Linked DNA regions of Homo sapiens. The gene in region 3 interacts genetically with the main gene of each other region. Each region holds a gene or a part of one and is shown on either strand. Other genes may lie near its edges. The genes, in order: NFU1, CAND1, PTEN, SAR1A, TMCO6, TTC31 and IGF2BP1.

Evidence for each region.
Region 1: changes in PTEN (region 3) and NFU1 together harm fitness more than expected from each alone (negative genetic interaction), as found in Homo sapiens cells (one large-scale study listed by BioGRID).
Region 2: changes in PTEN (region 3) and CAND1 together harm fitness more than expected from each alone (negative genetic interaction), as found in Homo sapiens cells (one large-scale study listed by BioGRID).
Region 4: changes in PTEN (region 3) and SAR1A together harm fitness less than expected from each alone (positive genetic interaction), as found in Homo sapiens cells (one large-scale study listed by BioGRID).
Region 5: changes in PTEN (region 3) and TMCO6 together harm fitness more than expected from each alone (negative genetic interaction), as found in Homo sapiens cells (one large-scale study listed by BioGRID).
Region 6: changes in PTEN (region 3) and TTC31 impair growth when combined (synthetic growth defect), as found in Homo sapiens cells (one large-scale study listed by BioGRID).
Region 7: changes in PTEN (region 3) and IGF2BP1 together harm fitness more than expected from each alone (negative genetic interaction), as found in Homo sapiens cells (one large-scale study listed by BioGRID).

What each region holds. Positions count from the first base shown.
Region 1 is NC_000002.12:69,416,388-69,420,791, forward strand, and holds part of NFU1 (NFU1 iron-sulfur cluster scaffold homolog, mitochondrial), read right to left. Parts: intron 3,218-4,404; coding exon 3,151-3,217; intron 1-3,150. UniProt on the Homo sapiens protein: Iron-sulfur cluster scaffold protein which can assemble [4Fe-4S] clusters and deliver them to target proteins.
Region 2 is NC_000012.12:67,316,979-67,320,930, reverse strand, and holds the end of CAND1 (cullin-associated NEDD8-dissociated protein 1), read right to left. Parts: 3' UTR 978-3,952; downstream 1-977. UniProt on the Homo sapiens protein: Key assembly factor of SCF (SKP1-CUL1-F-box protein) E3 ubiquitin ligase complexes that promotes the exchange of the substrate-recognition F-box subunit in SCF complexes, thereby playing a key role in the cellular repertoire of SCF complexes.
Region 3 is NC_000010.11:87,928,721-87,933,124, forward strand, and holds part of PTEN (phosphatidylinositol 3,4,5-trisphosphate 3-phosphatase and dual-specificity protein phosphatase PTEN), read left to right. Parts: intron 1-2,325; coding exon 2,326-2,369; intron 2,370-4,292; coding exon 4,293-4,404. UniProt on the Homo sapiens protein: Dual-specificity protein phosphatase, dephosphorylating tyrosine-, serine- and threonine-phosphorylated proteins.
Region 4 is NC_000010.11:70,163,968-70,167,514, forward strand, and holds part of SAR1A (small COPII coat GTPase SAR1A), read right to left. Parts: intron 1-3,547. UniProt on the Homo sapiens protein: Small GTPase that cycles between an active GTP-bound and an inactive GDP-bound state and mainly functions in vesicle-mediated endoplasmic reticulum (ER) to Golgi transport.
Region 5 is NC_000005.10:140,637,432-140,642,606, reverse strand, and holds the start of TMCO6 (transmembrane and coiled-coil domain-containing protein 6), read right to left. Parts: upstream 3,157-5,175; 5' UTR 3,080-3,156; coding exon 2,995-3,079; intron 2,869-2,994; coding exon 2,756-2,868; exon of another isoform or gene 2,743-2,755; intron 943-2,742; coding exon 827-942; intron 738-826; coding exon 554-737; intron 293-553; coding exon 188-292; intron 117-187; exon of another isoform or gene 22-116; coding exon 1-21.
Region 6 is NC_000002.12:74,485,559-74,489,962, reverse strand, and holds part of TTC31 (tetratricopeptide repeat protein 31), read right to left. Parts: intron 952-4,404; exon of another isoform or gene 676-951; intron 1-675.
Region 7 is NC_000017.11:49,003,885-49,007,384, reverse strand, and holds part of IGF2BP1 (insulin-like growth factor 2 mRNA-binding protein 1), read right to left. Parts: exon of another isoform or gene 2,579-3,500; intron 1-2,578. UniProt on the Homo sapiens protein: RNA-binding factor that recruits target transcripts to cytoplasmic protein-RNA complexes (mRNPs). This transcript 'caging' into mRNPs allows mRNA transport and transient storage.

The DNA.
Region 1 (4,404 bases), on a different chromosome or scaffold from region 3:
TCATTCACTTTCATTGTTTTAATTTGATTTAAATGATTAAAAGATGTTTTTCATGATGTGAAGACAAAATATTAAATGGATTTTCTGTCTTTAAAGAAGATGATAAAGAGATTCCCATTCTCTTAAAAAAAACATAGGATGTAATTGCTTGATCAAGTATACGGAACAGCCTACAACTATTCAAAAAATTTACTTATATATATTACTTAAAGGGTATGAAAGAAATTTGGCTGGGCATGGTGGCTCATGCCTGTAATCCCAGCACTTTGGGGAGGCCGAGGCGGGTGGATCACCTGAGGTCAGGAGTTTGAGACCAGCCTGGCCAACATGGTGAAAACCTTTCTCTACTAATAATACAAAAATTAGCCGGCGTGGTTGCAGAGGCCTGTAATCCCAGCTACTAGGGAGGCCAAGGAAGGAGAATCGCTTGAACCCGGGAGGCGGAGGTTGCAGTGAGCCGAGATCGTGCCACTGCCCTCCAGCCTGGGCGACGGAGTGAGACTCCATCTCAAAAAACAAAAAAAGGAAACAATATAGAGATAGTACATAAAAGGTGAGATAAATGGGGACTGCTAAGGTTATAAAAGTAAAACTAGTGAAATATCTTAGTGATTGGGAATGGAAACTAGTTGTAGGTAATAAATTATTTGGAAAACAAATCAGAGTGTTACCTCAGATCTTCAGTAAATAGCAGGCTCTACTAAATAGGAAAATATTGGTAATAAAAAGAAAAAATATTCTAAAGTTGTCTGAATGAGAAAAAAAGGGCAGCATATAAGCTGCAAATATACATATATATTTAGAAAAAAATAACACAAATGATGCATAAAGAAGTCTAATTATCAACTGGAAATCAGAAATAGAAACAGGCGATTGCTGAAGACATTCAGTAAAATGTGATAGTCCATGATGAGAAACATTACTGGAAGAAAACAAAATAAATCCAGTATTCCGTCTATTAAATACCAACGTGGGCCAGGCGTGGTGGCTCACACCTGTAATCCCAACATTTTGGGAGGCCGAGACAGAAGGATTGCATGAGCCCAGGAGTTTGAGACCAGCCTGGGCAACATAGAAGGACACTGTCTCTACAATAAAAAAAAATAAAAAAAAAATTAGCTGGGCATAGTGGCATGCACCTGTAGTCCCAGCTACTCGGGAAGCTGAGACAGCAGGATCGCTTGAGCCTGGGAGTTAGTGGTTGCAGTGACCCATGATCGCACTACTGTATTCCAGCCTGGGGAAACAGAGCAAGATCCCATCTATATGTATGTGTAGATAGATAGATATACACACACACATACATATATGTGTATCAACATATACCCTAACTTGGGATATTATCTATTGGTTATGTCATTTCACTTAAGAAAAAATTGTAGAGCTAGGGCAATTTCAAATAGGGTAACTAAATAATGAAAGTAAGAGAGCTAAAAGATGACTTACTAAATCTAATCAAGAAAAATAGGAAAAAAAAAAAAACCAAAACCCTTTAAGATATAATCACATTTTTACCTATAAAAATTTTTATATAGCATAGGCTATACGTAAAAGAACTAAATAACTTTAAAAAATAAATATATAATTTCCCACTTATAAAATAACTAGTTGTAAGAATTAGATAACATATGTAAAGCACTAGGGCCATATCCGACATTGAATATATTAAATAAATGTTCATCCCTTCTTCTCCTTAAAAAATATGGAAGAAAGAAAACTGAAGAATGGGGGGCTGGACGTGGTGGTTCACACCGGTAATCCCAGCACTTTGGGAGGCCGAGGTGAGCAGATTGTTTGAGCTCAGAAATTTGAGACCAGCCTGGAAAACATGGCGAAACCCTATCTCTACAAAAAATACAAAAATTAGTTGGACATGGTGGTATGCACGTATAGTCCCAGCTACTAGGGAGGCTGAGGTGAGATGACTGCTTAAGCTCAAGAGGCTTAGGCTGCAGTGAGCTGAGATCATGCCACTGCACTCTGACCTGGGTGTGGAGTGAGACTTTGTCTCTAAATAAATAGCCGCAAGAGAATACTGGACTAGATGACTAGATTTAACATGTCACTAACCCAGTATGTCCCCTTTTTTTCTTTTTTGAGATGCAGTCTCGCTCTGTCGCCCAGGCTGGAGTGCAGTGGCCCGATCTCCGCTCACTGCAAGCTCCGCCTCCCGGGTTCACGCCATTCTCCTGCTTCAGCCTCCTGAGTAGCTGGGGCTACAGGCGCCCGCCACCATGCCCGGCTACTTTTTTTTTGTATTTTTAGTAGAGACGGGGTTTCACCATGTTAGCCAGAATGGTTTTGATCTCCTGACCTCATGATCTGCCCACCTCGGCCTCCCAAAGTGCTGGGATTACAGGCGTGAGCCACCACACCCGGCCCCCAGTATGTCCACTTTTAAGGACATAAAGAGCTCAGACTAATCCTTTCAATTTGCTTAAGGGGAGTTTAATAAATATTTTTGATTTTCACACACTATCAGGCAAGTGATTTAAGTTCCGTGGATATATGTCAATTAACAGATTTAAAAGGATACATAGTTCAAATTTAAATAGTTCATGTCCCATTAATCTAGTAGACATCAAAAATGGAACAGCCCTTTCTAGCAGATACTGCCTTGACTGTTGAAAAACATAGCATATTTTTTATAGGCGTGGTGGCTCACGCCTGTAATCCCAGCAATTTGGAGGCCGAGGCGGGTGGATCACCTGAGGTCGGGAGTTCTAGACCAGCCTGGCCAACATGGCGAAACCCTGTCTCTACTAAAAATATAAAAATTAGCTGGGCATGGTGGCAGGCGCCTGCAATCCCAGCTACTCAGGGTGGCGGGGGGGGGCGCCGAGGCAGGAGAATCACTTGGACCTGGGAGGCAGAGGTGGCAGTGAGCCAAGATCGCACCATCACACTCCAGCCTGGGGGACAAGAGCAAGACTTCATCTCAAAAAAAAGAAAAAGAAAAGAAAAAGAAAAACATAGCATATTTCGCTTGATTCTTGTGACATTTAGAGGACAAGAGAGTAAGACCCTGTCTCAAAAATAAAATATAAAAATTAAAGAACAGAAAGAATGGAAATGTTGGAGAGAGAGGCATTGGACTCAGAAAAAAATGAAGAGTATTTCAAGTCTTATTTTATATAATCCTATGTTTACCTTTGTGACAGTGATGAAATCTGGTCCAAAGAAGACACTTTTTACTCCTTCAATCCTAAATAACTGCCTGCAAAAAAAGAAAAAATAAGAGATATTAAAATGCTTGATTATGGAAAAGTTTAAACATACACAAAAGTAGAGAAAAGTAAAAAATTCTCCACATATCCTTTGCAGCTTTAACAATGATCAACTCATGGCCAATTTTGTTTTATATTCCTACTCTACGATTTAGCAATCCCACTCCTAGTTATTTACCCAAAAGAAATAAAAACTCGTGCTCCACAAAGACTTGTACATAAATCTTCATAGCAGCTTCATTTAAAATAGCCACACATACAGAAAAATATGGAAATGTCCATCACCTGGTGAATGAATAGACTGCTATATCTATACTATCAATCATTCATTCAACCAATATTTGACACCTACTAAGTGCCAGGCACTGTACTGAGCACTAAACAGACTATTTTTTTTTTTTTCTCTTTTGAGACGGAGTCACCCTCTGTCCCCCAGGCTGGAGTGCAGTGGTGAGATCTTGGCTCATTGCAACCTCCGCCTCCTGGGTTCAAGCAATTTTCCTGCCTCAGCCTCCCAAGTAGCTGGGATTACAGGCGCCCACCACCACGCCCAGCTAATTTTTGTATTTTAGTAGAGATGGGGTTTCACCATGTTGCCCAGGCTGGTCTCAACTCCTGACCTCAGGTGATCCACCCACCTCCCAAAGTGCTGGGATTACAGGCATGAGCCACCACACCCAGCCTAAACAGACTATTTTCAAAAGACTAACTTGAAAAGAGATTTTGCCAACTGAACATCTGACAGAAATAATCTCTAACTAATCTATAACTGAATTAATTGGGGCTTTTTTACTTTTACTTTTTTAATACAAAATATGAACTCATTCTTGATGTAAATGTTTCAAACAATAAAATTTAAATGCCCCTTGACTACCCCTACCAAATCCTGTTATCAGTTTCGTGTGTATTCTTCCAGATCTTTTTGTCAGTGCATTTGTTGTTCTGTGGTTTTTGCTTTTATATACATAGTATCATATTGGACTCACTGTTCTGCAAGTTGCTTTCTTCACTTGTATGTCTCAGATGTCTATGACAGTAAATACATCCCTGCACGTATCTTGGGCACATGTGCAAGTAACTTCTAGGGTAGGGTTTTTAAAACCCAGTAGTGAGTTGTGGAATCATGTATGTAGTGACAGGGTTTTATGTAATAAAATAAAACAGAACAACAAAAAGA
Region 2 (3,952 bases), on a different chromosome or scaffold from region 3:
CCTTAATTTCCATGCTTGGAGGGATCCGGCAGGCCCCTAAGAGGAGTCCCTGCCCTGTCTCATGTGTGTGTGTGTTAACCTTCTTAGTATGTTGGGGGAGACTCTTCTTTCAGACTACTACATATAACTCAATTTGACTAATGAGGAAATAGACCTAGTGAGGCAGGAGAACAGGCTCTGGAGACAGGGAACTTAAGGGCAATTTGTGCTAACTTTTTAAAAGAGAAATCACCAAGGTCTGGGGGCAGGAAATCTAAGGCCAAATCACGCTGACTTCCCAGAGCTGGATCTAAAAGAAAATACCTGGGTCTGGGGGCAGGAATCCTAAGGCCAATCAACACAAACTTCCTAAAGCTAAACCCAAAGGGAAAAACCCCATCTCCCCAAGCGAAGTAACTAAGGATCAAAGGCTACTCTCTCTACAACCCTCCCACTTCCACCACATCTGAGATGGAAAGGAAGAGTACCCTGGATTGGCTGAGGGCCACACAGGGACCATCTCTTCGTGTGCATAGGGTGCCAATTCACCTCAGCCTTTAGCCACAGACCAAATACTTCATCCAGATAAGGGGTAGATGATAAGAACCTCAAATGGGATACTTAAAGCCCAGAAAACTTTGTAACTGGGCCCTTGAGCCACTTGCTCAGGCCCACTCCCACCCAGTAGAGTGCTTTCTCGCTTTCATAAAATTCCTGCTTTTGCTGCTTCATTCCTGCATTTCATTCCTCTGCTACTTTGCGCGTTTTGTTCAGTTCTTTGTTCAAAATGCCCAGGACCTGGACAATTCGTAGTCAAGCCCCTCCACTGGTAACACTAGATACATTAATAATTTGCCCAAAGTCCCACTCTCAAGAAGTGGTAGAACCAGATTTAAACCCAGGTTTAGAGCCTGAGCTTTTACAACTATATTATAATGTTTCTCAGTAAAGCATTACCAAAGACCAAGAAATAACAGATGCTTCAAGATGGCAAAAAATCTGATGTGCTTATATTTATTGTGTCAAAATTCTACTGAAATGACAGTAAATATTTTTTAAAAGGAATGAATCCAAAACCATATATAGAGCAAGAAGGAAGGCCCAAGAATTTTGGAAATTCTGACAAATTTCTAGAAGGCAGAAAGCTGGGGGCATCAGAGTACAGAAAGTCACAAACCAGACAAGGAGGGGTTACTTTTAGTCCAGACAAGTGACTCCAAGCTGAGTCTTTAGATACAGAAACTGGAACTACGTTGGCAGTATTCAGTTTGACATTAAGGGCTGTTTGTGAACAGCTGGACTAGTCGGCCCTTCCCATACCCTCAGTAACCATCAGCAATGGTATGGAGGAGGGGAATAGCAGTATCTGCACCAACGTTAACAGACAGACAGGTGCTTTTAAAAGGAATTTGACAATATTACGTGCCTGAAAATGGAGTCAGGTTCCAAACATGGGAGTTGGCCCTTGGATTATGCCCTCTTCATTACTTGTCCAGGGAAGACTTCCTGGAGTCCTTGACCTAACCTACAAGATGAAAAGCAGCCAGCTAAGTAAAACAAAAGAGAAGTCAAGTCATTCCAGGCAAAAGGCATAACTTGACCTTGAGCAAACTTGAGAAGGCAAGGGAAATATTTTATAGTTGTCAGAAGAAAAAGTTAGTCCTAGTTGTGAGAGATGCTGAGGCTGGTGGGGCAGGCAGTAACCAGATCTAGTTTGTACTTATCCTATGGGCAAAAGAGAGACAGTGAAGGATGTAGTGCAAAGATGAAATGGTCAGGACCATTGTTTTGCAGCTGTGTAGAGGAAGGACTGGGAATTAATGCCTTCTGGGTATTTTAATGTGGTGGTTTCCAAGGTGTGGCCTTGGGGAACAGCATTAGAACCTGGGAACGTCATAGAAATACAAATTACTGGTTTACTACAGCCTACTGAACCACAGCCTCTGGGTGTAGGGCCCAGCGATCTGTTTTAATAAGTCTTACAGGTGACTGTGATGCACACTCATTTGAAAACTATTCTTCTAAGAGCTCATTCCTCAAGACATTTCATCTCCTTTATGAATTGTTTCTGTCTCACTCATGTTGAATGGACCATACCCTCAATTATTAACCCCCAGTATCCCGTGTATACCTCTCATACAGCAGAATTTTATGGTGCTTCCTTATGTCAGTCTTCCCATGATAATCAGCAAGCTTCTTCATATCAAGTACAGTCTCAACAGCTTTTGTAGCCCTGGCAGCACCCTAAGCGCGTAATAAATTGGCTTGCTAAATGAATGAACACAAAAATAACGATTAGCAGGCATTTGCCGCAGTCCAGTCAATAGATAAGGAGGAAAAGAGGTCTTAAGCCAAAAGCATGAGAGATATTTAGGAAAGAGATATTTAGGAGATGGGCATGAGAGATATTTAGGAAATAAAAGGGACAGAATGCTAGTAAGAGTTAACAATTATATTACTTAGTATGTCCCAGGTACTGTTTTAAGTGCTTTATACAATGTTCCTATTTAATCCTCACAATAACCCTATAAGGTGCAAATATTTTAATTCCCATTTTATAGATAGGGAAAGTTGAGGTTAAATTATTTGCCCAAGTCTAACAGCTAACAGCCAGGATTCAAACTAATATGATATATGATGTCTATCTATCTGTAGAGTCCTTGTTTTTTTTGAGACAGGGTCTCGCTTTGTCACCCAGGCTGGAGTGCAGTGGTGCATGCAATCTTGGGTCACTGCAACCTCCACCTCCCAGGTTCAAGCAATTCCCCTGCCTCAGCCTCCCACACAGCTGGGACTACAGGCATGTGCCACCACGTCTAGCTAATTTCTTTGTGTTTTTTTAGCAAAGACGGGGTTTCGCCATGTTGGCCAGACTGGTCTCGAACTCTTGACCTCAAGCAATCCACCTGCCTTGGCCTCCCAGAGTCCTTGTTCTTTATCATATTCTGCCTCCAAACTCTTGCTAAGTGAGGCTTTTAGATTTCCAGTTTGAATGACTGGGTAAATGGGATGCCATCAGCAAAGAGACAGGAAAAACCAGGGCAAGATGATGACTTCAGCTTTAGATATGCTGTGTTTGAGATACCTTTATGAGATGTATAGCAGGTGGTTGGATATAATAGTCTGAAACAGGGGCATGGACTGGGCTAGATGTATAGATTAAGAAACTGGCTGGGGGACGTGGCTCACGCCTGTAATCCCAGCACTTTGGGAGGCCGAGGCGGGTGTATCACCTAAGATCAGGAGTTTGAAACCAGCCTGGCCAACATGGCAAAACTCCATCTCTACTAAAAATACAAAAATTAGCTGGGCATGGTGGCACACGCCTGTAATCACAGCTACTTGGGAGGCTGAGGCAGGAGAATAGCTAGAACCCGGGAGGCAGAGGTTGCAGTGAGCCGATATTGCGCCACTGCACTCCAGCCTGGGAGACAAAGCAAGACTCCATCAATCTCAAAAAAAAAAAAAAAAAAAAAAATTAAGAAAGAAAAAAAAAGAAAAAAGAAATCAACAACATGTGGCTGGGCAAGGAGGCACTTGCAATAATCTCAGCAGTTTAGGAGGCCAACACAGGATTGCTTGAGCCCAGGAGTTTGAGATCATCCTGGACAAGGTCATGAGACCCCATCTCCACAAGGAAATAAAAAAATTAGCTGGACGTGGTGGCACACACCTATACTCCCAGCTACTCGGGAGGCTGAGGTGGGAGAATCACTTGTGCCCAGGAAGCTGAGGTGCAGTAAACCATGTTCGTGCTATGTACTCCAGTCCAGGCAACAGAGTGAGACCTTGTCTTAAACACAAAAACAAACCTGTGAGGCCATTTGCACTTCAGTTTCCCTTAAATATTGTTCACTAGGTATTTCAGCCCACACGTCTTCTCATTATATGTAATCCTTATTCTTTTAGGGCCATCTCATCCATTCTTATGGTTGCATGTTGTTGATTTCTTTTTTCTTCTTTTTGGTAGAGA
Region 3 (4,404 bases):
TTAATTTAAGAAGAAAGTCTTCATCCTTATCCTACCAACCCCCATTCCCTGAGCATATTTATCATTACTAGTCCCAGCATATTTGCTCCCATATTTCCTATGCTTACCTGTGAAGATTTTCATAACTTTTTCCTTGCTTTTTACTGTCACTGTTGGTTCTGTGATTTATGACAGATACTGCTCTTGTAGGAATGCTGGCTTTGACTGAAATTTGTTACTGCTTTTGTATTTAAAACTTTTTTTTTATTATAAGTAGAATTATGGAACAGTAGTAGAAAAAGTTTGACTTTTGTAATCAGAGATACTGAGCTTGAGTTCTGGCTCTTTCATTTGTATACTGTTATTTGGGGCAAGTTTTTTAATGCTCTTAAGTCTTAGCTTTCTCATATATAAAATGGAGATAATAACAGTTATCACGTGATTGTGAGGATGAAACAAAAAAAAGTGGAAACTCTTTGTAAGGTGTGTTCATCTGGTTGACACTTAGTAGTCATTACTTCCACTTTCCGTCCATATAGTCCTCTTAACAGTAATATTTGAGAGGCATTTTTATTAAAGCAGTCTTAAGGAGTGTTCGTCAAACCACATGTTCTGGGATCCTGAGAAAGTAGGGGAAGTTTAGAGAACTGAAGCTGCACAAAACTAATGTTTATTTTCTGTTGTGTTGTCCTGAGACCAGCTTCTTAGATTGTGTTTCCTAGTCCTACATCTCTGATTCCTTATAAAATATTCCATTATGAATTCTTCACTATTGACAATTTCTCCCCTTTTATCTTAAAAGTACCAAAGAAAGTGTAAAATGTGACTGTCTTGTCAGTCCTCTTTTTCCTGTTTTTCATGTCAGTGGGTATGAAATTACTAGCAAGGATGCATATATGTGCATATGTCATTACTAAATGCATTTTCTTTCTAGAAAAACTCAATATACTAAATTGTACTAAAAAGGAAAAGCTTGTTTTGTTTTGAGTGGTAGTATGAAAGTTGTTTTATTTTAGGTCTGACCAGTTAGAAACCAATGGATTGTAGTTTATTTATAATTAGTTAAACCTTCATGTGAATTTGGTTTTGAATTACCTTTAAGGTAGAGAAGAAACTATATAGATGTTTTTCAGGGTTTCTAAATGTACAATACAGGTTCACAATCACTTATTTGAAACTCTTGGGGCCAAGTATGTTTCCATTTTCAGAAATTTTAGTTTTCAAAAGGTAGCACAGATAAATATACTTTTACATAAACACCCCAGTGGGGTGTGGGTCAGTACCTGAAATGAAATGTTTTACTCTTCGCTCTAAGTGTATTAAATATTATGTACAATCTTATTACTTCAGATCAGGATTTGCTGTAGTTGAGTTTGCCATAAAACTTAAGAGAAAATTTTAGATGTTTTGAACTTTTGGGATATTGAAATTGCAGGTTAAGGAGCTATGGACCTTTATTTGTTTTAAAATGCTAAGAGTTTATTTTAAGTAATTTTTAAAAAATTTGTTTTGCATAGTAGTTGGAGTTACCAGGGTACTGCTAACCACACTGATATGTAAGATCTCTTTCTGAGCCTTTTATTGTTTGTAAACATGGCCTGTTAATCATTAGAAAGCCAGTACATACTAACATATCACTGCTATTAAGACAAATATTAGCATACTCTAGTAATGACAAGTCAGCATTTTACTATTCTGTATTGATTTTACTTATTCTTTCATTACTCTCATACTGTAATTAAAACTTGCAATCTGAGAGACTGTTGAAAAAGGTGATCGTTGGCTTTTCAACAGGGAGTAAGGTCTGGTTTAAAAAAAAATTAGTAAGCATTTGGCCAAGTAGATTAACAACATTCAGTTTTTCTTTACTGTCCTTATGCTTTTACTATTTTTAACATATATCTTTTTGAAGAATAGTTTGAGAATTATGTATGCTTAACTATGAGATACAGATACTATTGAAACTAGTCAGTTGTTTATAGGTACTTGTAAAATTAAAAATATATTCCAATAGCATGCAGATTTTTCATAGAGGAAATTTGAAAGCATGGAAGCACCTGAATTTACAGTACTCTGTATTAGTGGCATCACAAGTTTTTAAGCAAATGTATTAGCTCTAATTGCATACACTTAATCTTTTAAGCTTTGGTTTTATTATTATAATATGGGGGTGATAACAGTATCTACTTAATAGAATTCTTGTTATTACATGAAATAATTAATGTTAAACACAGCATAATATGTGTCACATTATAAAGATTCAGGCAATGTTTGTTAGTATTAGTACTTTTTTTTCTTCCTAAGTGCAAAAGATAACTTTATATCACTTTTAAACTTTTCTTTTAGTTGTGCTGAAAGACATTATGACACCGCCAAATTTAATTGCAGAGGTAGGTATGAATGTACTGTACTATGTTGTATAACTTAAACCCGATAGACTGTATCTTACTGTCATAACAATAATGAGTCATCCAGATTATCGAGTGAGATACATATTTAAGAATTATCTTTAAAAATTTCAAAAATTTTAATTTTACTGTTGTGTTTTAGGAAAAAGTATTGCATAAAGCTATTAATATTGTCAGGAAGACTAAAGTGCAGCATAGACTAAGAATTAGGAAAATTCCTAGACTAAAAATAGTATAAGGAGAGGGTTTACCTACTATTTGAGGCAGTTGGTCTAATAGTAAGCAATCACAGGGAGAAAGCAGAACTACTTAACTCTTCTGTGTTGAGGAATGACATAAAAGGTAGGAAAGGATATAACAAATGTTGATAAGAGGAGTCTGATGGATGAGAGGAGGGAACTGCTTTAAATGAGTTTCTACTTCAGACATAAGTTAATTCTCAGAGCCCACAAAAACTTTCACTTTTATTTGTGAAATACAACTCAGTTCTCATGGCTTAACACTTTAAACCATGAGAAAACTGAAGAGTTGAGAAGCTTGGCAGATGCTGCTGTGATAGTCAAAAAGAAAGTGGGTGCCATGAGCTACTATTGATGTATTTGCCATTGATCCCTCCTGAAAATCTAGAATGGACTTTCAGACAAATGGTTTGAAAATTCTAAATCACTAATGATTGAGATTTAGTATAGGTTTACTAAGAACGGGTTTTTTTTGTTTTTGTTTTTGGTGGATTTAGGCTGTTGCTTACTAAGCAAAGCAGGCTTTAGTTGAGGTTTATCTTGCTTTAAACAGATATTTAACAGATTTTCCTGGAGGTTTTTGTGTACCACTGGGAAAATGAAGTTAGGCAGATGACTAAGTGAAAGCTGTCCTGCTGACTCCTTATAATGATAGTCATTGTCTACCAGAAGATCTCTCCTGTCACACCAAAGGATAATTGATTATATCCTGTACCATATTATGAGTCACCTGATTGGAGATATAAGACATACTTCTCACATATTTAGATGACACAGGTTAGTACATTGAATATCAGCCAGGGTTTTTAAGGATCTTAATAGAGTGGAACTAAGGTAGAAACTATTAAGAGCAATTAATAGTGATATATCTATAGTCCTGTTTCTAAACAAGTTTTTTTAAAAACCTCAACTCTGACTATAGTGAACAGAGAAGTCTTGGACTCTTACAATTCATGTGAGAAGACCTGAAACTTTGATAACAATTATATACATTTTGTGAGTAATTTCTTTGGTGTATGCCTTCACATATCTCTGGTATGTGACCTATGCTGCAGTCCATTGAGCATAGATTCCCAGAATGTATTCTCCTGCAGAAAATGGAGGAAAATAATACTTGGCTTCCCTAATGATTACATGTGTATACAACACTAACATTTGCAAGACCACCTTTAAATAACACACTTAGCATTTTTATTTTATGAAATGTAATATGTAGTTCTTTGCATAGTTTATCCTATTAGTAATCTATTCTGTCTTTGGAATATGTTTTGTGATGATGAAATAAATACTATAAATAGTATTATTCCTTTTGCATTGAGAGTCCTGACGAAATGTCCATGTGACAGTTCATTTTGGGTTTAGCTCTACCTCTAATATGTGACCTATGCTACCAGTCCGTATAGCGTAAATTCCCAGAATATATCCTCCTGAATAAAATGGGGGAAAATAATACCTGGCTTCCTTAATGATTATATTTAAGACTTATCAAGAGACTATTTTCTATTTAACAATTAGAAAGTTAAGCAATACATTATTTTTCTCTGGAATCCAGTGTTTCTTTTAAATACCTGTTAAGTTTGTATGCAACATTTCTAAAGTTACCTACTTGTTAATTAAAAATTCAAGAGTTTTTTTTTCTTATTCTGAGGTTATCTTTTTACCACAGTTGCACAATATCCTTTTGAAGACCATAACCCACCACAGCTAGAACTTATCAAACCCTTTTGTGAAGATCTTGACCAATGGCTAAGTGAAGATGACAATCATGTTGCAGCAAT
Region 4 (3,547 bases), about 18 Mb from region 3:
GATGGCAATGGCTATATTAGTGGTGTAGAACTTCACCATGTGATGACAAACCTTGGAGTGAAGTTAACAGATGAAGAAGTTGATTAAATGATCAGGGAAGCAGATCCTGATGGTGATGGTCAAGTAAACTATGAGTTTGTACAAATGATGACAGCATAATGAAGACCTTGTACAGAATGTGTTAAATTTCTTGCACAAAACTGTTTATTTGCCTTTTGTTTGTAACTTATCTGTAAAAGGCTTCTCCCTACTGTCAAAAAAAAATATGCATGTATGGTAATCAGGACTTCATTCCTCCATGTGTTCTTCCCTTACTGTCATTGCCCTGAAACCTTATTTTAGAAAACTGATGAAGTAACATGTTGCCTGTGGCTTACTCCGGATATATCTAAGCCCTTCTGCACATCTAAACTTAGGTGGAGTTGGTCAAATAAGGGAACATCCGGGTTATGCCTTTTTTTAAAGTAGTTTTCTTTAGGAACTGTCAGCATGGTGTTGAAGTATGGAGTTGTAACTCTGTGTGGACTACGGACAGCCAACAATATGTACTTAAAAGTTGCACTACTGCAGAATGGGTGTATTATCCAGGTACTCCCAGGTACCTCACACACTGTTTTTTCTGTACTGCTGGTCCTGTACCAGAAACATTTTCTTTTACTGTTACTTGCTTTTTAAACTTTGTTTAGCCACTTAAAGAAAATGTGCTTATGGCACAATTTGCCTCAAATCCATTCCAAGTTGTGTATTTGTTTTCCAATTAAAAAAATTACAATTAAAAAAAGAATTATACTAAATCTACTCTGCCTACCACACATCTGTTTACAGCATGGTTTACTAAGTATTTTAAGCCCACTGTGAAGACCTATTGCTCAGAAAAAAAGATTTGAAGATATTACTGCTCATTGACAACGCACCTGGTCACCCATGGGCTTTGATGGAGGTGCAGAAAGAAGTTAATGTTGTTTTAATGTCTACTAACAACATCCATTCTGCTTCCCATGGATCAAGGAGTATTTTCGATTTGCCAGTCTTTCATTTAAGAAATATATTTCCTTTGGGAGGCCGAGGCGGGCGGATCACGAGGTCAGGAGATCGAGACCATCCCGGCTAAAACGGTGAAACCCCGTCTCTACTAAAAATACAAAAAATTAGCCGGGCGTAGTGGCGGGCGCCTGTGGTCCCAGCTACTTGGGAGGCTGAGGCAGGAGAATGGCGTGAACCCGGGAGGCGGAGCTTGCAGTGAGCCGAGATCCCGCCACTGCACTCCAGCCTGGGCGACAGAGCGAGACTCCGTCTCAAAAAAAAAAAAAAAAAAAAAGAAATATATTTCACAAAGCCATCAATGCCATAGACTGATTTCTCTGCTGGATCTGGGCAAAGTAAACTGAAAACCTCCTGGAAAGGAGTCACCATTCTAGGTACCAGTAAGAACAGTTATGATTCACGGGAAGAGGTCAAAATATCAATATTAACAGGAGTTAGGAAGACAGTGATTCCAACCCTCGTGGAAAACTTTGAGGGGTTCGAGACTTTGGAGGAAGAAGTAACCTTAGATGTGGTAGAAACAGCAAGAGAACTAGAATTAGAAGTAGAGCCTGAAGATGTGACAACTGCTGTAATTTCATGATCAAACTAATGGATAAAGAGATGCTTCTTATGGATAAGCAAAAAAAGTGGTTTTTTTGAGATGGAATCTAGTCCTGGTGAAGATGCTATGAATACTGTTGAAATGACACCAACAATTTAGAAAATTACAAAAACTTACTTGAGTTTACATAAACTTACTTGAGCAGCAGCAGGGTTTAAGAGGACTGGTTCCAATTTTGAAATAAATTCTGCTTTGGGTAAAATGCTATCAAACAGCATTGCATGCTACAGAGAAATCTTTCTTGAAAACAAGCATTAACTGATGCAACAAACTTCCTTGTTGTCTTATTTTAAGAAACTGCCACAGCCATCCCAACCTTTAGCAATCATCAACCTGATCAGTCAACAGCTATCAACGTGGAGTAACATGGAGGTAAGATCCCCAACCAGCAAAGAGGTTATGACTCGCAGAAGGCTCCGATGCTTGTTAGCATTTTTTAGCCATAAAGTATTTTTTAAATAAGGTACGTATTTTCTAAGACGTAATGCTACTGTACACTTAACAGACTACAGTATAGTGTAAACGTAACTTTTATGTGCACTAGGAAACCAAAATATTCGTGTTACTTGCTTTACTGTACTTGTTTTATTTCAGTAGTCTGGAACTAAACTCACAGTATATCCGAGGTATGCCTACACTTTCTTTTACTGTGTGACTTACTCCTCCAGGCAGCGGTTCATTCACATTCCCTAGACATACGACTGCTGTCATCCAGTGAAGAACAACTCTAGGAAATCAGTCTTATCAATAATGTGAATCAGAATGCCACTTAGATGCACTAAATAGAAAATAAGAATGAAAAGCACATTGATTTGAATGAAAAACATATTAATCTATCCTGTAAACAACTCTAAAAAACAAAAGTCACCCAAAATTCTACTGGCCAGCACCACTTGCCCTGCTCCATTTACCAATGTTATCTCAATATTTAATCATTTTTGCAGACACGGGTCTCAATTTATAAAAAGAAATGACATCACTATTTTAGAGAACCATTAAGGGATAAGAAGAGAATCTTTTCATACATGAATAATCACACCCAAACTCATTTTACAAATAGATTTTCTTAAAATAAGAATACTTATTCAGGCCGGGCCCCCGTGGCTCACACCTGTAATCCCAGCATTTTGCAAGGCTGAGGTGGGGGATTCCTCCCTGACCTCAGGAGTTCAAGACCAGCCTGGGTAACATAGAGAGACCTGCATCTCTACAAAAAAAAAAAAAAAAAATTAAAATTAGTCAGGCATGGTGGCACGTGCTTGTAGTTCCAGCTACTTGGGAGGCTGAGGCAAGAGGATTGCTTGAGCCCAGGAATTTGAGGCTGCCGTGAGCTATGATTGTGTCACTGCACCCCAGCCTGGGTGGCAGAGCAAGACCCTGTCTCAAGAAACAAAAAAGCAAAAAAAGAATACTTTTCAGGATATAGCAGTAAGTTCCCAAGCCAGTAAATAACTTAACTGGTACTGATATTAACACTACTTTTTCTATTGTTTCTCATAGCTATCAAAAGCTACTAAAAGGTTTACATATATTGGTAATAAGCAAAATGACCTCTGAATGAAATTAAGAGGGTAGGATCTAGACACACTGGTGGGTCTTAAGGTTTCTCAGCATTGTCTGGCCATGCTGAATTTTTGCTTTAGTATCTCAGATGCGGTGCAGAAAAATGGAAGGTCCACACTTTTACTCCTCTCCATCAGCAGGAGCATCTGAACACAGGGCTTTATACTAGATATGACCAACTGCATTCAAAATTTTCATGAACAGTAACCAGTAAAAGCATTACCCACAAAAAAATCCCCTTACATTCAAAGAATGCCAGATGAAGAATAAAATGAACAGCTGGGCGCGGCAGCGCTTGCTTGTAATCCCAGCTATGCAGAAGGCTGAGGCAGGAGA
Region 5 (5,175 bases), on a different chromosome or scaffold from region 3:
CAGCACAGCCACATGGGGGGACTGGAAGTAGACAGGGTAAGGATCTGACTGGAAGCTGGGTCATCAGGTCTTCAGAGACTTTCAGCCCCTTGGCACAGGGCAGAGGCTGGAGCTACCTAACCAAAGTAGATGGAGCATGTGGGGAGGAGCAAAGGAAGGGTTGCCCAGGGAGGAAGAAAGGAGTCACCTGGATGCAGGCAGCCAAGGCTGGAACAATGCCCTGTGGCAGGAGCTGCCTTCTCACAGCCTCACTCTCCACGATCAGGTTACCCAGTGTATACAGACACAGCTCCTGAGAACAGGCAACAAAAGCACTGGGCTTGGCCTGTTTCATGCCAGGCTGCGTGTGGGGAGATGGGGAGGGGAGGTGATGGGGACGCTGGAGCAGCTATCCTTGCGGCTCACAAGAGGGTGGGGAGATGATGGGTGTAGCCATGGCTGTAGGCATAAGGGCAAACATGTTTTCTTCCTCCTACCTGCCAGCTCAAACTGGTCCCAAAAGCACAATTTTAAAATCTAAACCAAGAACAAGATAGGAAGGGACAGGGCTTACTATGAAGTCTGAGCTGTGACTGGAGAGGTAGGTGAGGAGGTAAGAAGTGGCTGGCAGGCAGGCCTCAGCAACAGTGGACTGCTCGGAGTGAGAGAGCTCATGCAGGCACCGAGCCGCCTCAAGCTGCAGCAGGGCCTGGTTGCTGGTCAGGAGCCCGACCAGGGTCCGCATGCTGCCCTCCAGCCTATGTGAGTGAGTACCAGAGCCCTGCTTAGCTTGTGGTCCATCCCTCAGAGCCCCAACTCCTCCCTCCACCACACCATCCACACTGACCGGATGAAGGTTTGCTGTGTTTCAGGGTGCTGCAAGCCTCGACGAAGGCTGACCAGAGCCCCCTCTCTCTCCTTTTCCTCTGTCCCCCGCTGGGCTTGCCGCAGGAACTGCTGCACCTGGAGTTCAGGGCAGGGAAAGGAGAACACACGGTTCACAGAAAGCAAGTCCTAAGTCTCTCTCTGCCCACTTCACCTGTGAGCCTTCCAATATCACACCTTCAGAACTTGTCATTCACACTAATGCAACTAATAAGCATCTACCTTGCAGTGGAGTGGACAGAGAATCAGAACTGAGTTCTAATACCATACCTGCCACTTACTCCATATGGGACCTGAACCTAAGTTTCCTCACCTGAAAATGAGAATAACAATATCTATCCTGCCTTCATACAGGGTTCTTTCAAGGATATTTAAACCTCTCAGCCTGGCAAAACCTACTCCTCTAGCCATTCTCCCCATGCAACCTACACTCTAACAACAACCAGCCTAACATGAGCTTTTTCTTTTTCTTTTTTTTACATTTCCGAGCTTTTGCACATGCTATTTCTTCTGCCTGGATACCCTCTCCAGCTTCCCACTCTCTTCAGGTTTCTGCTCCTCATTTCCTCTGGGAAGTTAGCTCTTTTTGAGAGACTTAGGAGTTTCTCTTGTTCCTCATGTTTCCTTCCCTTGTGACATCTGTCTTCTTCACCGGGCTGTGAGCACCTCAAAGAAAAGGACTCTATCCTTTCATCTTTGTGTACCTCAGTGACCAGCACAGTGTCCTGGCATAAAGTAAGCATACAATGGAATAGTATGACCTAGGAATAAGTTGATAATATATATGTCAACATGGTATGTACGGTAAACTATGTACGTAAACATAATACAAATACAGGGGATACTCAATGCTTACTGAATAAATCCTTTCATTCACTCATTCAATAAACACTGAGTACTTAACTATATGCCAGATAATGTGCAGGCAACCGGGTTTTCAATGACAACACAGGATCTAGGTTTTCCTGCAATTAAAGTCTAGTTGGAGAAATAACAATAGACAAACCATTAGATAATGATTAATATTCTACAAGAAACAAGTAGGTGGCCGGGCACAGTGGCTCACGCCTGTAATCCCAGCACTTTGGGAGGCCAAGGCGGGTGGATCATGAGGCCAGGTGTTCCAGACCAGCCTGACAAACATGATGAAACCCCGCCTCTACTTAAAATACAAAAATTAGTGGTGGCGCGCGCCTGTAATCCCTGCTACTCGGGAGGCTGAGGCAGGAGAATCGCTTGAACCCGGGAGGCGGATGTTGCAGTGAGCCGAGATCATGCCACTGCACTCCAGCCTGGCGACAGAGCGAGAGTCTCAAAAAAAAAAAAAGAAAAGAAAAGAAAAAAAATAGGCTCTCAAGACAGAATACCAAAAGAAACGAACGTTAGACGTAGCGAATGCCAAGGGCTTGAGACACAAATCCGATATATCGTTGCAGGAACTAAAAAGAGGACGGTGGGTAGGATGAGAAAACTGATAAAATTTGAGTTAGGAAGAGGCTAGACCATGCTATGCTTTGCAAGGCACAGGAAAGATTTTGGTCTCCACGTGTTTTTAAAGGACGTAGTGACGGTGACAAGCATAGATGCAGGGTGACCTTTTAGGAGACTGCAGTAGTATCCAGAGAGGAGGTGGTGGTGGCAGCTTCGATGGTGAGGCATGTAAAGACTCCAAAGCTCTTCAGGAGGTAAACAACTAGGACTTGATGATGGATCGATATGGGGTTGTGGGTCAAAGAGTTGTGCAGGATGATTCCCCTGTTTCTGGCTTGACCCACTGGATGCGTGGAAGTGTAGAGTGGATTGCGTTCAGGTTTGGGGCAGACCTCGAGTACTCCCGGGAGTCTGGCGCCAGCGGGCGTGGACTCCAGCGCACCCTACCTTGCCCCCTCACCTCGGTTTCCCCGAGGATCGCAGCCACACATCCCTCTCCAGCTTCCTCTGGGGCGTCGTTTCTCAGCAGCCTCTTGCTGACCAGCTGCTGCTCCCTCCGCGCCTTCCGCAGTGCTGGGGGCAGAGGAGCCGGCTGAGCGTGGGAAGGACGACCACAACCCAGAACCCGCGGCTCCGAGCCTGGGGTCTCAACTTATCCCCGACCGCCATATACCCCCGCGCTCCCTCGGCCGCCCACACCTGCCTCCCGCTCCCGCCGGCGGCGCCGTAGCTCCTCCACCCCGCAGACCGTGGGCCTGAGGCGGCCCTGCCGTCGGCTCCACATGGTGGAGCAGGAGGAGGAAAGCCGAAGGAAACAGCAGCCACAACGCTCCCAGGGGCGTAGAAGATGGCACCGACTGCGCAGCCTCAGCACAGGGCGGGAACAGGCGGGGAGGGCGCGAGGAGCGGGGTGGGTGCTGGGTGAGGGCGGGGCTCGGCGAGTGGACGCCTCGCGGGGACGGTGGGCGGGGCGAGGGCTAGAGACGCTGCACCACTAGACCAGAGCCAGAGGCGTCGCTCTGCCTCTGATTGATTTCCTGTCTTACCAATTCTAGGAAAAAAAGTCTCTCATCCCTGACCTCGAGTGACCCAAGCCAGCAGTGTCACAATCTACTCAGCAAACACAACTTCCCCACCCACAATACGCTCTAGATGAAAGTTCAAAACAATCCCGAACTGCGGGAAGCGCCATGATGCCGTTTCACTATTAATGCGGATCCCACTGATGAGAGCTGCCAAAAACGCTTGAAGCGTCATTGAATTGTCAACGAAAAGAGTCCAACTCTGTAAAATATTTGAAGAGACTTATTCTGAGCCAAATATGAGTGACCATGGCCCTTGACACAGCCCTCAGGAGGTCCTGAGAACATGTGCCCAAGGTGGTCCGGTACAGCTTGGTTTTACATATTTTAGGGAGATATGAGACTTCAGTTCATTCAAGAAATACACTGGTTGGGCCGGGCCTGGTGGCTCATGCCTGTAATCCCAGCACTTTGGGAGGCCTGGGCGGGTGGATCAGCTGAGGTCAGGAATTTGAGACCAGCCTGGCCAACATGGTGAAACCCCATCTTTACTAAAAATACAAAAATTAGCCGGGAGTAGTGGTGGGTGCCTGTAATCCCAGCTACTCGGGAGCCTGAGGCAGGAGAATCGTTTGAACCCGGGAGGCGGAGATTGCAGTGGGCCGAGATCGCGCCCCATTGCCTGGGGTACAAGAGCGAAACTCCGTCTCAAAAAAAAAAAAAAGAAAGAAAGAAAGAAAGAAATCTGGGATATGATGAGGTTTCTCTTCAAATAATTAGATCAATCTTTTATTCTTTAATTCATAGTACTCCCCCCCACACACACTTTTGTTTTCCTTTTTCTCCTTTTTGCCTTCGTTAGATGCCGAGGCACGCCACAGTACAAGACGTTATCAGTACCAGACGTTATCAGTACCAGCTCACATTCCTTTCATTATTTGGAAAGAGGACTAACTTTCTAGTTCATTACAGGCACCCCTTCCCCTTTCCTCTCCACTTTCTTTTACGTGCCCACATTACCTAAAAAAATCAAATGTTTAGCCAACCGGGATTAGTTCAGATTGTATGACCCGACCCCGGCCAATGGGGAAAGGGTACAGGGGCAGGACTTGCGTCAGGAATAAAGGCTCTCGTGCCCCTTTGTTCAGGTGTGCTCTCATGGCGACTGGCCAAGCAGACACCCCTCTGAGCAGAAGTAAAATTGCTTTGCTAATAATCCTTTGTTCGAGTGTTCAATTTCCCTTAGGATTTTGAGCGTTATTCCTAAGAGAAAGAAAAGAAAGAAAGGAAGGAAGAAAGAAAGAAAGAAAGAAAGGGAGAAAAGAAAGAAAGAAAAGAAAAGAGGAAAGGAGGAAGGGAAGAGAGGGGAGGGGGAAAGAGAGAAAGACATTGGTTTGTGGGACAACAGAAAGGCGGGACAACTCGAAGTGGGGCGGTGGGGGGCTTCCAGCTTATAGGTAGATTTTAAATTTTTCTGGTTGACAATTGGTTGAGTTTCTCTAAAGACCTGAAATCAATAGAAAGGAATGTCTGGGTTAAGATAAAGGATTGTGGAGACCCAAGTTCTTATTTGCAGAGGAAACCTTCAAATCCTAGGCTTCAGAGAGAATGGGTTGTAAAATGTTTCTTATCAAACTTAAAGTCTGTGTTGATGTTAACGGTAGAGAGGTATAATGAGGCACGTTCAACCCCTACTTCCCATCATGGCCTGAAACGGTCACTCGGGTTTAATTTTGAAAGAGCCCTGGCTGAGGAGGAAGTCCATTCAGATGGTTGTGGGGGGCGGCCTTAGAATTTTATTTTTGCTTTACAGAATGTTCACCACAATGACCATTATTCTCATTTTATATGTGATGAA
Region 6 (4,404 bases), on a different chromosome or scaffold from region 3:
GCTTCGCTGGCTTGATCTCTCCACCATGGCAGCCACCAACCAGCTATCCAGCCCAGAGACTCTCACTGGCTCTGACCTCTCCCTCCTCAGCACCGCAAAATCTGCTGCCCCCAGCTATTGTAGTGAATCACCTCCCCTCGCTGCTTTCCTGCCTTCCCAAGGGTTGAGTATGGTATTCAACCTGGCCTCCTCTACCATCCAGGATCTTCTCTCCTCAACCTGAGTTAGCCACACTGAGGCCCCTGGAATGAAGCCCTCCCACCTGCTCTTCCAGCTAGGCCCCCTGTCATATCTGCAGTATGAACAGCTCCACATAACCCACCCTGAGGCTAGCTCACACCTAAACAAGTACAGCAGCTCCTGGCTGGCCGCTCCTCTGCACCTCATCTGTTTCTCCACAAAACTAAGCTCTAAGAAATTACTTCCCTACTCAGGGACATCCAATAATCCCCCACTGCCAAGGCCATAGGCAGAGTTGAACCTAATTCCTCAGCCTACGATTCAGAGCCTTCCAAAAGGCTCCCAGGCTGACCTTTCCAGCCCTCCTTTTAATCCTCCCCTGCTTCACTGCTGTCCTCCCTCCCACCACCAGGCTCCCTCCAGCCTTGGGGCCTTCCCCCAGCTGCTCTCCAATCCCTCCTAACTCTTGAGCTTCTTTCTCACATCTTGCCTCACCTTCAAGGTCCAGTTCAAATTCTATCTCCCTTCAAAGCCTTCCCAGACCCTTTCATCTCCAATTATCTCTGCCTCCTCCAACTAACCTGCAACCACATTATCTGTGTTACACAATTTAGAAACTTGTTATTGATTGCTTTCTATTGCTCTCCTCATTGGCCAGGCAGCATGGAATTCCAAAGGGCATTGTGCTGGAGTGGAGCCACTTGCATCTGAGGTTATTTTTTCTTTTGAGGTGGATTCTTGCTCTGTCACCCAGGCTGGAGTGCAGTGGTATGATCTCAACTCACTGCAACCTCTGCCTCCCGTGTTCAAGCGATTCTCCTGCCTCACCCTCCCAAGTAGCTGGGATTACAGGCACACGCCACAATACCATTTGTATTTTTAGTAGAGAGGCGGTTTCACCATGTTGGCCAAGTTGTCTTGAACTCTTGACCTCAAGTGATCCACCCGCCTCAGCCTCCCAAAGTGCTGGGATTGCAGGTGTGAGCCCCTGTGCCCGGCCGACTATTTTTTGTTTGTTTCTGAGACAGGGTCTTGCTGTGTTGCCCAGGCTAGACCCAAACACCTAGGCTCAAGCGATCCTCCTGCCTGAGCCTCCTGAGTAGATGGGACTTCAGGTTTGCACCATCATGTCCAGCTTGTCCAAATTTTCACTCTGACACTACCTGCCTGTTTGATTCTGGAGAAGTCATTTAACTTCTTTGGACCTCTCCCTCATTCACAAAATAAGGCAAGACTCTTTAAGGCCTGGCCCACACATTCTGTGGTCCTGATGGGAGTCATTTCCTCAGGGAGTATAAGCTTCAAAGACAGGAATGATCACATTCCTATTTGCCTAATCAGGCCTAAACAGAGCAGGACTGACTGAGACGCTTAGAAGCCAATGATCTTTTGGACTTATTGAGTTAGAAGCCACAAACTTAGAAACTCCAGCGTGCTAAAAAAAAATCTGTAGGCAGGACTTCAGATGACTAAGGTATATTCAATTTTCTAAACAATTTTAGATCCAAGGCTTCCCTCAGAAGATAGTCCTGGCTTAACAGCATCTCCAATACTGCTAGGCACTTTCATCAGTCTTATACTTAAAATTCAATTTCCTGGTGGGTTTGTGTCACCTTCCTAACTGCAACATAAGCATAAATAATGAGCCAGGTGTGGTGCGGACGCCTATAGTCCCAGCTACTCGGGAGGCTGAAATCGAAGGACTGTTTGAGCCCAGGAGTTCAAGGCTGCAGTGAACTATGATCATGCCACTGCACTGAAGCCTGGGTAACAGAGGGAGACCCTGTCTCGATAAATAAATATGGCTGGGCATGGTGGCTCACGCCTGTAATCCCAGCACTTTGGGAGGCCAAGACGGGTGGGTCACTTGAGGCCAAGAGTTTTAGACCAGCCTGGCCAACATGGCGAAACCCCATCTATACTAAAGATACAAAAATTAGCTGGGCATGGTGGCACATGCCTGTAGTCCCAGCTACTCAGGAGGCTGAGGCACGAGAATTGCTCGAACTTGGGAGGCAGATGTTGCAGTAGCCAAGATCACACCACTGCACACCAGCCTGGGTGACAGAGTGAGACTCTGTCTCATAAAAATAAATAAATTAATTAATTAATAATAAATAAATAAAGCATGCTCTCTGCCCCATGTCAGGCAGCCTCCTCAGGATGTGCCACTCAAATATATACTGTATTTCTTCTCTCTTCCTCCTCAAACCAGTGTAGTCATCATTAAAAATAAAAAATAAAAATAAATTTAAAAAAATAAAAAGCCGGGTGCAGTGGCTCACACCTGTAATCCCAGCAATTCGGGAGGCCAAGGCAAGCAGATCACTTGAGGTCAGGAGTTCGAGACCAGCCTGACCAACATGGTGAAACCCGTCTCTACTAAAAATACAAAAATTAAGCAGGTGTGGTGGCACGCATCTGTAATCCCAGCTACTTGGGAGGCTGAGGTAGGAGAATTGCTTGAAACTGGGAAGTGGAGGTTGTGGTGAGCCGAGATCTCGCCACTGCACTCCAGCCTGGGCAACAGAGCGAGACTACGTCTCAAAAAAACAAACAAACAGGTACTTCCTTGACCTTCTACTACCTGTCCCCAAACCACAGTCTGTGCTGCTCTCTGAATTCACTACATGGCCACTACATATGATCTGGTCCCCCAATATCATTGTGAATCTTCTCCTATCTTGTTACCCTCCTCCAGCCACAGCAGTGTCCTTGGAAGTTCCCACAACATACCAACTGTGCTCCCATCTTAGGGCTTTGCACTTTACTTTGCCTAGAATGCTTTTTCCCCAGTGAACAGCTCACTCCTTCGTCCTTTTTAGATCTCTATGTAAATGTCACTTTCTCAGAGAGGCCTTCTCTGAACACTCCTTTTTTTTTTTTTTTGAGGTGGAGTTTCGCCCTTGTTGCCCAGGCTGGAGTGCAATGGCATGAACTTGGCTCACCGCAACCTCCGCCTCCAGGGTTCAAGTGATTCTCCTGCCTCGGCCTCCAGAGTAGCTGGGATTACAGGCATGCACCACCATGCCCAGCTAATTTTGTATCTTTTAGTAGAAACGGGGTTTCTTCATGTTGGTCAGGCTGGTCTCAAACTCCTGACCTCAGGTGATCCATGTGCCTCAGCCTCCCAAAGTGCTGGGATTACAGGCGTGAGCCACCACACTTGGCCTGACCACTACTTTTAGAAGGAGAAACTTCCCAACTCCACTCAGCACTCCCTATCCTCCTTCTTGCTTTTTCTTTGTACTTCTCATGTTTGACATACTATGTTGTTTATTTATTTGGTCACTGGTTGCCCTCATTAGATGCTCCTAATTTGTTGAACAGAAAGATTTTGGTCTGTTTGATTTACTGCTGTTTCTCAGTACCTACAACAGTATCTAGTACATAGGTGGTATTGTGTGTGTGCTGAGTAAACAGAGATTGGTGAGGAGGCTATTCCAATAGAGACAGAGCCAGGAACTGTGTGTGAAGAAACATGTGTGACACAGTGAGTGTGAACTTTTTTTTTTTTTGAGACGGAGTCTAACCCTGTCTCCAGGCTGGAATGCAATGGCGCAACCTTGGCTCACTGCAACCTCCATCTCCTGGGTTCAAGCAATTCCCTTGCCTCAGCCTCCCAAGTAGCTGGGACTATAGGCGCCCACCACCATGCCCAGCTAATTTTTTGTATTTTAGTAGAGACGGTGTTTCACCATGTTGGCCAGGATGGTCTCCATCTCCTGACCTCATGATCCGCCTGCATCAACCTCCCAAAGTGCTAGGATTACAGGTGTGAGCCACTGCGCCTGGCCGTGAGTGTAGACTTTATCTTGTCAGTGATAGCAGTGGACTTGATCTGGGGAATGAAACAATCAAATGAAATAGTGCTGAGACGGCCAGGCATGGTGGCTCAAGCCTGTAATCCCAGCACTTTGGGAAGTCAAGGAGGGTGGATCACCTGAGGTCTGGAGTTTGAGATCAGCATGACCAACATGGAGAAACGCAATCTGTACAAAAATACAAAATTGGGCCAGGTGCGGTGGCTCACGCCTGTAATCCCAGCATTTTGGGAGGCTGAGGTGGGCGGATCACAAGGTCAGGAGATCGAGACCAGCCTGGCTAACATGGTGAAACCCTGTCTCTACTAAAAATACAAAAAATTAGCCAGGCGTGGTGGCAGGCGCCTGTAGTCCCAGCTACTCGGGAGGCTGAGGCAGGAGAATCACTTGAACCCGGGAA
Region 7 (3,500 bases), on a different chromosome or scaffold from region 3:
AGAAGTGGGCATAAAGGTGGGTTCTGAGTGCATCTCTGGGAACTGGTTCCAGACCAGGGAACCAGGGGGAGAATGTGAGGACACTACAGAAGCAGAAGAAGTAGGGAACAATGTGTGCAGTCACCCCCTGGGTATCTAGGGATCCCCAGTTCCTGAATGCCTACTTTGTTAGCTTACCAAGAGCAGGACATGAAAATGAACATACCCATCCCAGCAGATGGGGGAGGTCACTCTCATTTCTTCCTTCCTCAGACCCCCAGGAGGATTCTTACAGTCCCCTTCATCCTGAATTCTTACAACACCTACCTTATATGCAGAGTTAGTTCCCCTCTCACCAATGTCCCTACTCTACATGTACACCTTTGACAGTAGCCGTAAAGTGTGAAATTTCAGCTAGGAACCTGGACCAAGTTCAGGGCATAAACGATAACAGAATAAATGGCCTGTTTCCCCTAAAGAACAATTAATAGCATTATCCACCATGCTCGCCTCATCTCTCCAAGCCTCTGTCTCAGAGAATGTACTGGGGGAATCTATAATCTAGGGGCTCTGTGGGGTTGCCCTGGTGAGCTTCATCTCTCTCCACTAAAAGGTGGCTTTTCCTTTCAACATACAGGTAGAGTTACCAAAGCACCCTACGCACAGATCCCCTTCAACATGCCTAGCCATCACTGTTCCTAGTGCCTTAGATATATAGCCCAAGCTGACACACACACAGTTCAAAGACAACCTCTCATGGACACATTTTCAGGCATCTGTACACTTGATCAGTTCTAATACTCATGGAGCTAACCACAGCTATATGGGGCAGGGTAGGATACAACTGTAAAGCTTCAAAGGAGGACAAACAATGGCTAGGGCAGGAGGGACAGAAGTCAATATCTACAACAAAATAATAACAATAAGAGCTATTGTGTACTACTATTAGGACCACTTCTTTACAGTTACGGAAATTGAGCTCAAGCTTTTAAACACTGAATTCTCCTGGGAGGAAGACCTTTCCTCCAGACCCCAGTAAAGGATGAGTGAGAGACCTAGGGTAGGTCATTAAGACTCTGACCTAACAGCACTTCTTCCCTCCTGGAGCCTTAAGAATTTTGAATGATTCCTTTCCTCCTTGTTCCTCTTTGCCAAAGAGGTCAGACCACACAAACAACCATTACACACATATTTCTGAATTCTCTGATTTCTCCCCTTAAAGATCCTAACTATATCCAATCAACTAAACTAAACTATCCAATCAAATTTCACTCAGACTTAACATTTTCCATTTCAAGTGGCCAAAACATCCAAATGAGTGATTGAGTTGGTTTTTGTTTTTGTTTGAGACACAGTCTCGCTGTTACCCAAGCTGGAGTGCAGTGGTGCGATCTCGGCTCACTGCAACCTCCACCTCTCAGATTTAAGCAATTCTCTGGCCTCAGCCTCCCGAGTAGCTGGGACTACAGGCATGCACCACCACACCTGGCTAATTTTTGTATTTTTAGTACAGGCAGGGTTTCACCATGTCGGCCAAGCTGGTCTTGAACTCCTGGCCTCATGTAATCTGCCCTATTCGGCCTCCAGAAGTGCTAGGATTGCAGATGTGAGCCACCGTGCCTGTCCTGAATGAGTGATTGAGTTTTTAACCAAAATTAACTCAAAATGAAAAAAAAAAAATTTGAAGTTCTCCTTAACCTTCTTTTCATAAGGAAATGTAGAGAGGATTGACTAGAATCCACTAACCAGACATGGTAGAAAGGGAAAGAGAAAATGTAGAGCTTCCCCTCTTCTCCTGCCTCCTCTATTATGGGATTTTTCTCCACAACCCTCCTCTAAACTATAAGCAAAATTTCCAGCCATCCCATATCAGACACCATCCCTTACATGCCTTCCAGCCACCAAAATGCCACTTGTCTAATAACCAGACTTGTCCTAAGGGGTCTTGAAAATATCTGCACAATCCACTCAAAACTTCTCTTAATCATCGAGCTGTTTGCTCTCTATTTCAGTCAAAAGCAGTTTGCTTACGACCAGCCATGCTCCTGGGAACCTGGATTTCCCAAAATGCAAAAGGACTGCATTTCTGATGGTGTTTGTTCTGCACACAGTTACATTTCAGTGTGTTGCAATCAGGTTTTTTCCAACTGTATTAAAAGTATGAGGTCCAAACCTACTTTTCTGTGACTTACCTGTAATCAACATATATTTTGTCAGTCAACTATGGTTAGAGCAAAAGTTTGTTCCAGCCTGTTGTATTATTGCAAACCTACTGTGCTGCAAGGTAGTAAGCAGGTCTTACAAAGCAGGCTCTGCAATAAATTTTAATAGTAGGATGACCCCCCTTCTATCCAGTAATAAGTACATAGTCTCCTCTGATCAAAATCTGAAGGGCCATCCAAGTTCTCCTAGTAGAATGAAGTCACTACCTGGGGACTACGTAGCTTCCTGCTGGCATTGCCTCCTTGCCCTTGCGATGGTGTGTGTCAGGTGGTATCTTACAGGATCATTTTTAACCAAACTATCGGTAACCAAATGGGCATACACTTTCTTGAGTACAGGTTTGAGAGACCTTTCCTTCTGCTTTTTGTTTTGACAGGCATTTAAAAAGGTATAGGGGAGGAGAGGAAAGGTGGAAATGGATGGGGTGCAGAAGTTTTACACTAACATGGAGTCGAAGACTGGCTGAGACCCTGGACAACTGGAAGGCCTGTTGTCTCTCTTTTACAAGATAAACAAAATCCATGGATAGAACCTCTGACTACTATTACTGCCTCTGTTATTGTTTCGGTCAGCCTTCAGGACCTGTGGACAGACACAAACAGCTCATTTTGTAAAGATTGCAGGTTACTTAAATTGACACTTAACTCTTTAAGGTTCTATTTCTCAGGCCAAGACCCCAGCTACTGGGAGAGAGGAACAGCTACTTGCACTTCCATTTTCTCTCCAACTGTCTCATCCTATTTTCCCTTTACCTACTCTTCCTCTCTTCTTGCCTCTTTTCACTTCACATTTACCCACTGGCTTTTTGCCTTAGAATGGAGAGCTCCTGAGGCAGCCCAGGTGCTGGAAAGGGTCTGCAGCCCGCAGCCCGCAGCCGGTGAGGGGGAACCCTCTCGTGGGGTATCTGCTGCGAGGTTTGCGATCTGGGGTTCCCAGGACTAAGGCGCACCACAAGCGGCCTGGGATCTCCTGGGGTCTCAGGGATCTGAGAGGGGAAGTCCTCCTCGGAGACCCAGGCCAGCGGATGTTCTCTGTCAGGGGCTTGTTAAGAGAAGGCAGGCGGGCGGCCCCACCTCAGAGCGAGACGAGATTGCCGGGCTGGGACTGGCGCGGGGGCGGGCGGGGAAGGTTAGGGCCGCCGGGCCGGGGCGAGCGCTCCAGGAAGAGCCTGCAGCGCCGCCGCCACTTTCTCTCTCTCTACTCTCTCTCTTTTTTGAAAGGGGAAGGGAAGGCCGGCAACTCCAAAAGCAAATATAGCCTTGCCCTGAGCTGAGTCTACCACCCGTCTCCGACCCCTC